Linked DNA regions of Homo sapiens: region 2 is linked to region 1. The links come from fine-mapping of genetic effects on gene expression. A gene starts in region 1. The other region holds a variant in brackets. All regions are shown on one strand. Distances are between the middles of the regions.

Region 1 (5,380 bases):
TACTCTTTAAAATAAACTGGCAAATTAAAGCATCTCCTGAGGTTCTGTGACTGGCTCTAGCAATTTAATGGAAGCCGAGGAAGGGGTCATGGGAACCTGATTTTTATCAAGTCAGTCAAAGGACAGGTAAAAAAAAAAAAACATCCTGGGGCTTGTGATTGGCATCGAAAGGGGTTGGCGGACAGTCCCGTGGGACTGAGACTTCACCCTGTGGGATCTGATGTCCACTGCAGAACTACTTGGTGTATGAGGAAAACCATCCACACATTATCTAGTCACAGAAGTACTCTGTGTTGATTGTTGTGGGGGAGAGCAGAGCAAAAGCAATTTGTATTTTTTTCCACGCAGAATGGCCAAAACAAACCTCCTGATAGCCTCAGTGAATATTACACCTGCTATCAACTTGCTCATCTCAGTTGATGCAGCTCCCATTGCTACAGCTGCTAAGATAAAAAACCCAGGGGTGTTTCCTGAATCCTCTCAAGCTCTCACTGTTCACATTTAAAAATTGAGTTGCCAGGCTGGGCACGGTGGCTCAAGCCTGTAATCCCAGCACTTTGGGAGGCCAAGGCGGGTGGATCACGAGGTCAGGAGTTCGAGGCAGCCTGGATAATATGGCGAAACCTAGTCTCTACTAAAAATACAAAAATTAGCTGGGTGTGGAGGCGCGCGCCTGTAATCCCAGCTACTTCGGAGGCTGAGGCAGGAGAATCGCTTGAACTCAGGAGGCGGAGGTTGCAGTGAGCCAAGATTCCACTATTGCACTCCAGCCTGGGCAACAGGTCCAGACTCCATCTTGGGAAAAAAAAAATTGACTTGCCCCTCTAAAAAACACAAATCCAGATCTAGCCACATTGCCTAAGCCACAACTCTAGTCCATTAATCCTCACCTCGACTAGGGCAGTAGCTTCCAGTTTGATCTTCCTCCTCCCTCAACCCCACAGTCTGTTGCCCACTCAGTAACCAGACAGCGCCTATTAAGAAATTGGTAACATCACCTCACCCCTCTAGTTTCACTTCTAAGTAAGTATTTGCACACCCCAGTATCAGTTCCTGGGTGAACCCTCCACATGTGTTACATTAGTTGACAGACATAGCAACAACTCCCCATAACCTATGTCACTGATGTAGGTTTGGGGTTTGAGGTTTTTCCAAGATCCCCAGATTGAAGGACCGGAGAAATGGCACTTAAGTGTCCTAGGAGGTGCGGTAGTTCCTGCTTGGCATCCCAGCACTTTGGGAAGCCGAAGCAAGAGGACTGCTTGAGCCCAAGGGTTCGAGACTAGCCTGGGCAACATGGCGAAACCCCATCTCTCTCTCTCTCTTTTTTTTTTTTTTTTCAGACGGAGTCTTTCTCTGTCGCCCAGGCTGGAGTGCAGTGGCGCGATCTCGGCTCACTGCAACCTCTGCCTCCCGGGTTCAAGCGATTCTCCTGCCTCAGCCTCCCAAGTAGTTGGGACTACAGGTGTGTGCCACCAGGCCTGGCTAATTTTTTGTATTTTTAGTAGAGGGGGGATTTCACCGTGTTAGCCAGGATGGTCTCAAACTCCTGACCTCGTGATCCGCCCGCCTCGGCCTCCCAAAGTGCTAGGATTACAGGCGTGAGCCACCGCGCCCGGCCGTGAAACCCCACCTCTACTAAAAATACAAAAAGCCAGTTACTCGGGAGACTGAGATGAGAGGCTCTCCTGAGCCCGGAGAGGTCGAGGCCGTGCTGCGCCGTGATCGCGTCACCGCAACCCAGCCTGGGTGTTGAGTGAGAACCCGTCGCCGAAAAAAAAAAAAGATGCCAAGATCTAGACATGTGGGATAGGATGAGGACCAGTGAAGGACTAGAGCATCCCCTACTTCCTACTGTGGATTCTGTAAGTGCTTCTGTAGCCATGAGGTGTGCCAAAAGGCAGGGCTTTCACAAATGTGTCTGTGCTCGGATTTGATAGACTCAGGCTTCTCTGTAAGCTTTTTTTGGCCCTGCAGCCAGATGACTTCAGACTGAGTCTCTAATCTTGTGGCCCAGTGCTCAATGTCACCTCTCAATGATTCAACCTCTCAATGTCCTCATCACTGCCTTCAACTCTGTTCTTCCTTCGAACATCTTTTGGGAATCGCAACTCTAACACAGATTTCCTCCTTTGTTCAAAACTGTCCATGGCTTTTAGCGTCCTCACAGTCAAAGTTCAACCCTCAGCCTGGTACTGAAGAAACAACTCCGCCTCGGCCAGGCGCGGTGGCTCACGCCTGTATTCCCAGCACTTTGGGAGGCCGAGGTGGGCGGATCACCTAAGGTCAGGAGTTCGAGGCCAGCCTAGCCAACATGGTGAAACCCCGTGGTGGCGCATGCCTGTAATCCCAGCTACTCGGGAGGCTGAGGCAGGAGAATCGCTTGAACCGGGGAGGTGGAGCTTGCAGTGAGCCGAGATCGCGCCACTGCACTCCAGCCTGGGCGACAGAGTGAGACTCCGTCTCAAAAAAAAAAAAAAAAAGAAATAACTCCGTATCACACTTCTTTCCCAGTAGACACACGATGTCCCCGTGTTCCGCATCCTCCTGCCTCAGTCGCGCCTGCAGGCCTTTGCCCTCCGCCAGTCTCGCTCTGCCGACCGCATCAACTGGGTGTCGGAAACAGGGATCCCACCCGCCGGCGCCTCTCCGTCCCTGACAGAGGCCTGGGCTGCAGGGACGCGAGGAGGCGGCCCTCACGATCAGGGGCCTCAGGGTCTGGGTGGGTAGGGTGGGTAAGGCCCGGAGGTCGCAGCGCTCACCTGAGCAGGCGCCCTCAGAGCGGCTGCTGCCGCCATGACTCTGGGCGGGGGGGGAACGCGGGCTCGGCGGTGTTCCTGTCGTTGTCCTGTCCCGGGTCGCGACCAGCGGCGTCGCCGAACCTCAGATCCGCCTGTGTGCAATGGCCACAACCACTCCTCCCGAGCTCGTCCAGACCCAGCATCGCCGGATGGACCTGACAGGCCAAAATGGCTGCCACGGCTAGGACGCCGGAAGTCCTGGCTTGACTTTACGTGCCCCGGCAATGGCACGGCTTCTCTGAAGCTTCATTGGCTCAGCCACGTTACCATTTCGCAGGGCGGATTCTGGGTAATGTAGTTCCCAGACATGGGCAGCGCTTAAGGTGGCTTTCTTCCGACTTTCCGAAGAAAGGGGCAAGCTCCACTGCGAGGGGCGCTAGGAAATGGCGACTCCAGGTCCAGATGCGGAGGAGGGTCTCCCATCTTAGAAGAGGCCATACGCACATTTCTGGGGGTACTGTGTGCAACTGATTGCCCGCGTGTTTGGAGACTTCTTATTTCAGAATTTGTGATGCTCGGCTTCTTCCTTTTTTTTTTTTTTTTGTCTTTTTTTTAAGACATAGTTCTCTCTGTCACTCAGGCTGGGGTGCAGTGGTGTGATCTTGGCTCACTGCAGCCTATGCCTCCCGGGTTCAAGCGATTCTCGTGCCTCAACCATCCGAGTAGCTGGGATTACAGGCGTGTGCCACCATACCCTGCTAATTTTTGTATTTTTAGTAGAGACGGGGTTTCCTCATTTTGGCCAGGCTGGTCTCGAACTTCTGGCCTCAAGTGATCTGCCTGCAATGGTCTACCGAAGTGCTAGGATTACAGGCGTGAACCACCGTTCTCAGCCCATTAGCAACACTTTTATTTATATCTTTAACCTACAGATTCCTCTAGAAATCTGATATCAACATCAAAAAGCTAATGAGACAAATGCTATTATGTTACAGGACAATGGCTGCGGTGTTCAAACATGGAGTATGTATGCATGAGAGAAGAGAGAGACCCTCTCACATTGTTTTATATTCAGTAAAAACAACAAGGAAGTAAAACCAAAGACAGGCAACCCCGCGCCAGGCCCGAAACCAGGCCTAGGCCCGCCTGGCCTAAACCCAGTAGTTAAAAATCAACTTATGATTTAGAAGCCGATGTTATTCATAGATTCCTTAGATTGTATAGAAGAACATTGTGAAACTCCCTGCCCTGTTCTGTTCCTCCCTGACCACCGGTGCATGCAGCCCCTGTCACATACCCCTTGCTTGCTCAAATCAATCACGACCCTTTCATGTGAAATCTTTAGTGTTGTGAGCCCTTAAAAGGGACAGAAATTGTGCACTCCGGGAGCTCAGATTTTGAGACAGTAGCTGGCCAATGCTCCCAGCTGAATAAAGCCCTTCCTTCTGCAACTCGGTGTCTGAGAGGTTTTGTCTGCGGCTCGTCCTGCTACATGCACAGGGTGCTTTTACACTGAGATATTTCAAGTGCCTTAAATCCATGCGTTCACCTCTTTGCTGGCAAGTGCTTATCATTGTCAGTGGCATTGGAATCAGAGTGACTCCATCTTGAAAATGGGCTGGATAAAGTAAGGCTGAGAAATACTCGGCTGCATTCCCAGGTTAGGCATTCTTAGTCACAGGATGAGATAGGAGGTTGGCACAAGATGCAGGTCACAAAGACCCTGCTGATAAAACAGGATGCAGTAAAGAAGCTGGCTAAAACGCACCAAAACCAAGATGGTGATGAAAGTGACCTGTGGTCATCCTCACTGCTCATTATACGCTAATTATAATGCATTAGCATACTAACTCCCGCCAGCGCCATGACAGTATACCAATGCCCTGGCAATGTTTGGAAGTTACCCTATATAGTCTAAAAAGGGGAGGGAACCTCAGTTCTGGGAAATCTCCACCTCTTTTTTTTTTTTTTTTTTTGAGATGGAGTCTCGCTCTGTCACCCAGGCTGGAGTGCATTGCTGCGATCTCGGCTCACTGCAACCTCCGCCTCTTGGCCAAGTTCAAGTGATTTTCCTGTCTCAGCCCCCCGAGCAGCTGGGATTATAGGCGCCTGCCACCGCGCCCAACCTGTAAAATTTTCTATACTTAAAAAAAAAGTTGGCTGGGCGCGGTGGCTCACACCTGTAATCCCAGCACTTTGGGAGGCCGAGGCGGGCGGATCACGAGGTCAGGAGATCGAGACCATCCTGGCTAATATGATGAAACCCCGTCTCTACTAAAAATACAAAAAAATTAGCTGGGCGTGGTGGCAGGCGCCTGTAGTCCCAGCTACTCCGGAGCCTGAGGCAGGAGAATGGCTTGAACCCGGGAGGCGGAGGTTGCAGTGAGCCGAGATCACGCCACTGCACTCCAGGCTGGGGGACAGAGCGAGACTCCGTCTCAAACAAACAAACAAACAAACAAACAAAAAAGTTGGCCGGGTGCGGTGGCTCATGCCTGTAATCCCAGGACTTTGGGAGGCAGAGGTGGGCGGATCACGAGGTCAGGAATTCGAGACCAGCCTCACCAACATAGTGAAACCCCGTCTCTACTGAAAATAGAAAAATTAGCTGGGTGTGGTGGCGCATGCCTGTAATCCCA
Region 2 (5,380 bases), 33 kb after region 1:
TCAATTTGCAAATCATGCCCCCAAAAAGACAAAAATGCATAACCAAAAAATGTTATAAAGACACTAAATGGCCACTCAAATACTTTAAACAGTCTTCTTCATTTCCCACTGGTAAAGATCTTACAGTGGACTTTGTGAGGCTTAATATTTTCAGTCAGTAATGGAAGGAAGAATATTCAAAGAAGGTTTCAGAGGAAATATAGAGGAGAGGCATAAGGCAAGGAGAGGAGGTTGCACCATGTCTCCAGGTCCCTCAGAGTATGTCTCAACCTCAGAGCAGAACTGGTTCCTTCTGATTGTAACACTCTGTAGGGACCAGCCCCACAGGGTCGGTGGGTCTCTCCCTGTGTGCGGTGACGAGAGAGTGTAGAAATAAAGACACAAGACAAAGAGATAAGAGAAAAGGCAGCTGGGCCCGGGGGACCACTACCACCAATGCGCGGAGACTGGTAGTGGCCCTGAATGTCTAGCTGCACTGTTATTTATTGGATACAAAGCAAAAGAGGCAGGGCAAAGAGTGTGAGTCATCTCCAATGATAGGTAAGGTCATGTGGGTCATGTGTCCACTGGACGCGGGGCCCTTCTCTGCCTGGCAGCCAAGGCAGAGAGAGAGAGGGAGAGAGAGAGACAGCTTACACCATTATTTCTGCATATCAGAGACTTTTAGTACTTTCACTAATTTTGCTACTGTTATCTAGAAGGCAGAGCCAGGTGTACAGGATGGAACATGAAGGTGGACTAGGAGCGTGACCACTGAAGCACAGCATCACAGGGAGATGGTTAGGCCTCCGGATAACTGCGGGTGGGCCTGACTGATGTCAGGCCCTCCACAAGAGACGGAGGAGCAGAGTCTTCTCTAAACTCCCCCCGGGGAAAAGGGAGACTCCCTTTCCCGGTCCGCTAAGTAGCGGTTGTTTTTCCTTGACACTAAGGCTACCGCTAGACCAGACTTCCCAGATGCTGGCATCACCGCTAGACCAAGGAGCCCTCTGGTGGCCCTGTCTGGACATAACAGAAGGCTCGCACTCTTGTCTTCTGGTCACTTCTCACTGTGTCCCCTCAGCTCCTATCTCTGTATGGCCTGGTTTTTTCTAGGTTATGATTATAGAGCGAGTATTATTATAATACTGGAATAAAGAGTAATTGCTACAAACTAATGATTAATGATATTCATATATAATTACATCTATGATCTAGATCTAGTATAACTCTTGTTGTTTTATATATTTTATTATACTGGAATGGCTCATGCCCTCGGTCTCTTGCCTCAGCACCTGGGTAGCTTGCTGCCCACAACACTCACCTGGGAATAGTTGGTATTTACTAATTCACATTTACAAAACCGTGGCTGGAGTGTCAGCATTCCTGCCATGGGGAAAGTGGATATTTGAACCCTGAGAAAAGATTCTGGGTACAATAATCTCACCTTCTTGCTGGGAAGGAACTATCATTTCAGCAGTAAGTACAATGATAGTTTCGGCATGGGGACTGGAGATTACCTCTGGAAAACAGCTTGGACTGAGAAAATTAGTTAATATTGTGGATAAATGAAGTTACCACTGAGAATGACATAAGTAGCTAGAAAAGTTTCTGTGAAGTCTGAGAACACATAAATCTCAATGGATAGTGAGCAGAGGACATGGGGCTGTAAGTTCTGAGATAATTAAGTGGAGCCCATGGCTATCCTAGAGACTTGACTAACATGAAATTCTTATTTCTACAAAGTGTGTATTATTTCAATTTCTGAGAACTCAGGAAAAACCAACTGAGAGCCAAGGAAATAGTAAGGTAAGACTAGAAAGATGTCATAGAACAGAAAGAAAGCGATGGTGGCATCATATTGATTCAATGTCTTGGAATCTGCATCTTGTCACCTGGGGACACATTCTTTGATACAAAATGGAGGACCAGCTCATAGCTCCTGTGGTATTGAAAAACAAGTACTCCGGCCAGGCGTGGTGGCTCACGCCTGTAATACCAGCACTTTGGGAGCCCGAGGCGGGCGGATCACGGGGTCAGGCCATCGAGACCATCCTAGTCAACATGGTGAAACCCAGTATCCACTAAAATACAAAAAAATTAGCCAGGCGTGGTGGCGCACTCCTGTAGTCCCAGCTACTTGGGAGGCTGAGGCAGGGGAAATCACTTGAACCTGGGCGGAGGAGGGTGCAGTGAGCCGAGATCGCACCACTGCACTCCAGCCTGGTGACAGAGCAAGACTCCATCTCAAAAAAAAAGAAAAAAGAAAAAAAAAGTATTCCTTACAGTAAAGGAATGATATCACTGAAGAATATATTAGGTTCAAATATGTCTTTGTTTTACTTTTTCTTATTTCTTATTGAAATGGAAATAGAAAAAAAATTATTTTAGTATCAGGGTAATACCAACCTTGTATGATGAATTTAGAAGTATTTTCTCCTCCTCTTATTTTTGGGAATAGTTCGAGTAGGATTGGGGTTAGTTCTTTAAATGTTTGGTAAAATTCAGTAGTGAAGCCATTGGGTCCCAGGCTTTTCTTTGCTGGGAAAATTTTTATTACAGCCTCAATCTCATTGCTTGCTATTTGTCAGTTCAGGTTTTGGATTTCCTCATAATTCATCTTGGTAAGTTATATGTGTCTAGGAATTTGTCCATTTTTTCTATAATTTCCAATTTTTGGCATACAGTTGATCATAGTAGCCTCTAATGATCCTTTGAATTTCTGCAGTATTGGCTGTAAAGTCTTCTTTCTCACTTCTATTTTATTTGGTTTATCTTTCTTAGTCTGGCTAAAGGATTTTTTATTTTGTTTACTTTTCAAAAAACCAATTTCTCGGCCGGGCGTGGTGGCTCACGCCTGTAATCCCAGCACTTTGGGAGGCCGAGGTGGACAGATCACGAGGTCAGGAGTTCGAGACCAGCCTGACCAACATGGCAAAGCCCCGTCTGTATTAAAAATACAAAAATTAGCCGGGCATGGTGGTGGGTGCCTGTAATCCCAGCTACTTGGGAGGCTGAGGCAGGAGAATTGCTTGAACCCAGGAGGCAGAGGTTGCAGTGAACAGAGATCCTGCCATTGCACTCCAGCCTGGGTGATAAGAGCAAGACCCCATTTCAAAAAAAACAAACAAAAAACAAACAAACAAAAAAAATCATTTTGTTGAACACATTTGTATTGTTTTCTTTGTTTCAGTTTCATTTATTTCTGCTCTAATCTTTATTATTTTATTTTCCTTTTTTTTTTTTTTTTTT[TG/G]AGACAGAGTCTTGTTCTGTTGCCCAGGCTAGAGTGCAGTGGCGTGATCTTGGCTCACTGCAACCTCCACCTCCCGGGTTCAAGCAATTCTCCTGTCTCAGCCTCCTGAGTAGCTGGGACTACAGGTGCCTGCCACTACGTCTGGCTAATTTTTATATTTTTAGTAGAGATGGAATTTCACCTTATTGGTCAGGCTGGTCTCGAACTCCTGACCTCCGGTGATCCACCTGCCTCAGCCTCCCAAAGTGTTGGGACTGCAGGCGTGAGCTACTGCGCCCAGCTATTTATTTTCTTCTACTCACTTTGGGTTTGGTTTGCTCTAGCATCTCTAATTCTTTAAGATGCATTATTAGGTTGTTTATTTAAAGTTTTTTTTTTTACTTTTGTAATGTAGGCACTTATAGCTATAAACATTCTTCTTAGTACTTATTTTTCTGTATCCCACAGATTTTGGCATGCTGTGTTTCTATTATCATTTGTTTCAAAAAACTTTTCTTTTCTTTTTTTTTTTTTTGAGACAGAGTCTTGCTCCATCATCCAGGCTGGAGTGCAGCGGCGCAGTCTCGGCTCACTGCCACCTCCACCTTCTTGGGTTCAAGCAATTCCTCAGCCTCATGAGTAGCTAGGACTACAGGCGCCCGCCACCATGCCCGACTAATTTTTGTATTTTTAGTAGAGACATGGTTTCACCTTGTTGATCAGGCTGGTCTCGAACTCCTGACCTCAGGTGATCCACCTGCCTTGGCCTCCCAAAGTGCTGGGATTACAGGCATGAGCCAATGCGCCTGGCCTCAAAAAACTTTTCAATTTCTTTCTTTTTTTTTTTTCTCTTTGAGATGGAGTCTCACTCTGTCTCCCAAGCTGGAGTGCAATGGCGCAATCTCCACTCACTGCAACCTCCACCTCCTGGGTTTAAGCAATTCTCCTGCCTCAGCCTCCTGAGTAGCTGGGATTACAGGTGTGTGCCACCATGCCCGGCTAATTTTTGTATTTTTAGTAGAGACAGGGTTTCATCATGTCGGTCAGGCTGGTCTTGAACTCCTGACCTCGTGATCCGCCTGGCTCCACCTCCCAAAGTGCTGGGATTACAGTCGTGAGCCATCATGCCCAGCCCAACTTCTCAATTTCTTAATTGACCCACTGGTCATTCAGAAGACGACTGTTTAATTTCCATGTGTTTGTAGCATTTTGAAAGTCCACTTGTTACTGATTTCTACTTTTATTGCCTTGTGGTCAGAGAAGGTACTTGATATTATTTCAATTTAAAAAAGTTTCAAGACATATTTTATGGCCTAACATATAGTATTTCTTTGAGAATGATCCATGTGCTGAGAAGAATAGGTATTCTGAAGCTGTTGGATGAAATGTTCTATAAATATCTATTAGGTCCATTTGTTCTATAGTGCAGATTAAGTCCATTTCTGTCTGGAAGGCCTGTTCAATGCTGAAAGTGGGGTGTTGTCATCTTCAGCTATCACTGTGTCAGACTCTATCTGTCTCTTTAGCTCTAATAATATTTACTTTTATATCTGGGTGCTCCAGTGTTGAGTGTATATATATTTACAAAGATTATGTCCTCTTGCTGAATTGATCCCTTTAGCATTATATATAATGACTTTGTCTCTTTTCACAGTTTTTCTCTTGAAATCTATTTTTCTGATATACATGTAGTTATTCCTGCTATTTCGTCGTTTCCAGTGGCATGAAATATCTTTTTCCATCCTTTTATTTTAATCTATGTGTGTCTTTATAGGTGAAGGGTGTTTCTTGTATGCAATAGAGCATTGGGTCTTTATTTTTATTCATTCAGCAACTCTGTGTGTTTTGATTGGAGACTTTAGTCCATTTATATTCAATGTTTTATTAATAAGTAAGGATTTACTGCTGCCATGTTGTTTGGTGGTCTTCTCTTCCTTCTTTCCTTCCTTCCTGTCTTCCTTATTGTGAAGGTGATTTTCTCTGGTTGTATATTTTAATTTCTTTTTAAAAAATTTTTTGGTATCTGTTGTAGGTTTTTGAATTTAGTTTACCATGAAGCTTCCATGGTAAACTATATCTTATAACCCATTATTTTAAACTGATGACAACACTGATCCCATAAACAAATAACAAACAAGAGAAAAACTAATAAAAACATTACACTTTAAC

The links. PIP is the estimated chance that this variant, and not a neighbour inherited with it, causes the effect.
Region 2: its variant is the best candidate, but not a certain one, in a credible set for the expression of ZNF586 in monocytes after LPS (Fairfax 2014, PIP 0.87).

What each region holds. Positions count from the first base shown.
Region 1 is chr19:57,767,261-57,772,640 of GRCh38, reverse strand. ZNF586 (zinc finger protein 586) reads right to left here and starts at 2,965. Exons shown (of 3, transcript NM_017652.4): 1 at 2,763-2,965. The coding sequence starts at 2,798. RefSeq lists enhancers at 2,731-2,980, 2,702-3,241.
Region 2 is chr19:57,734,132-57,739,511 of GRCh38, reverse strand. No RefSeq gene overlaps it. Among named protein-coding and RNA genes, the nearest start is that of ZNF671, 9.2 kb to the right of the region's middle. The variant TG/G (reference allele first, on the strand shown) is at 3,232.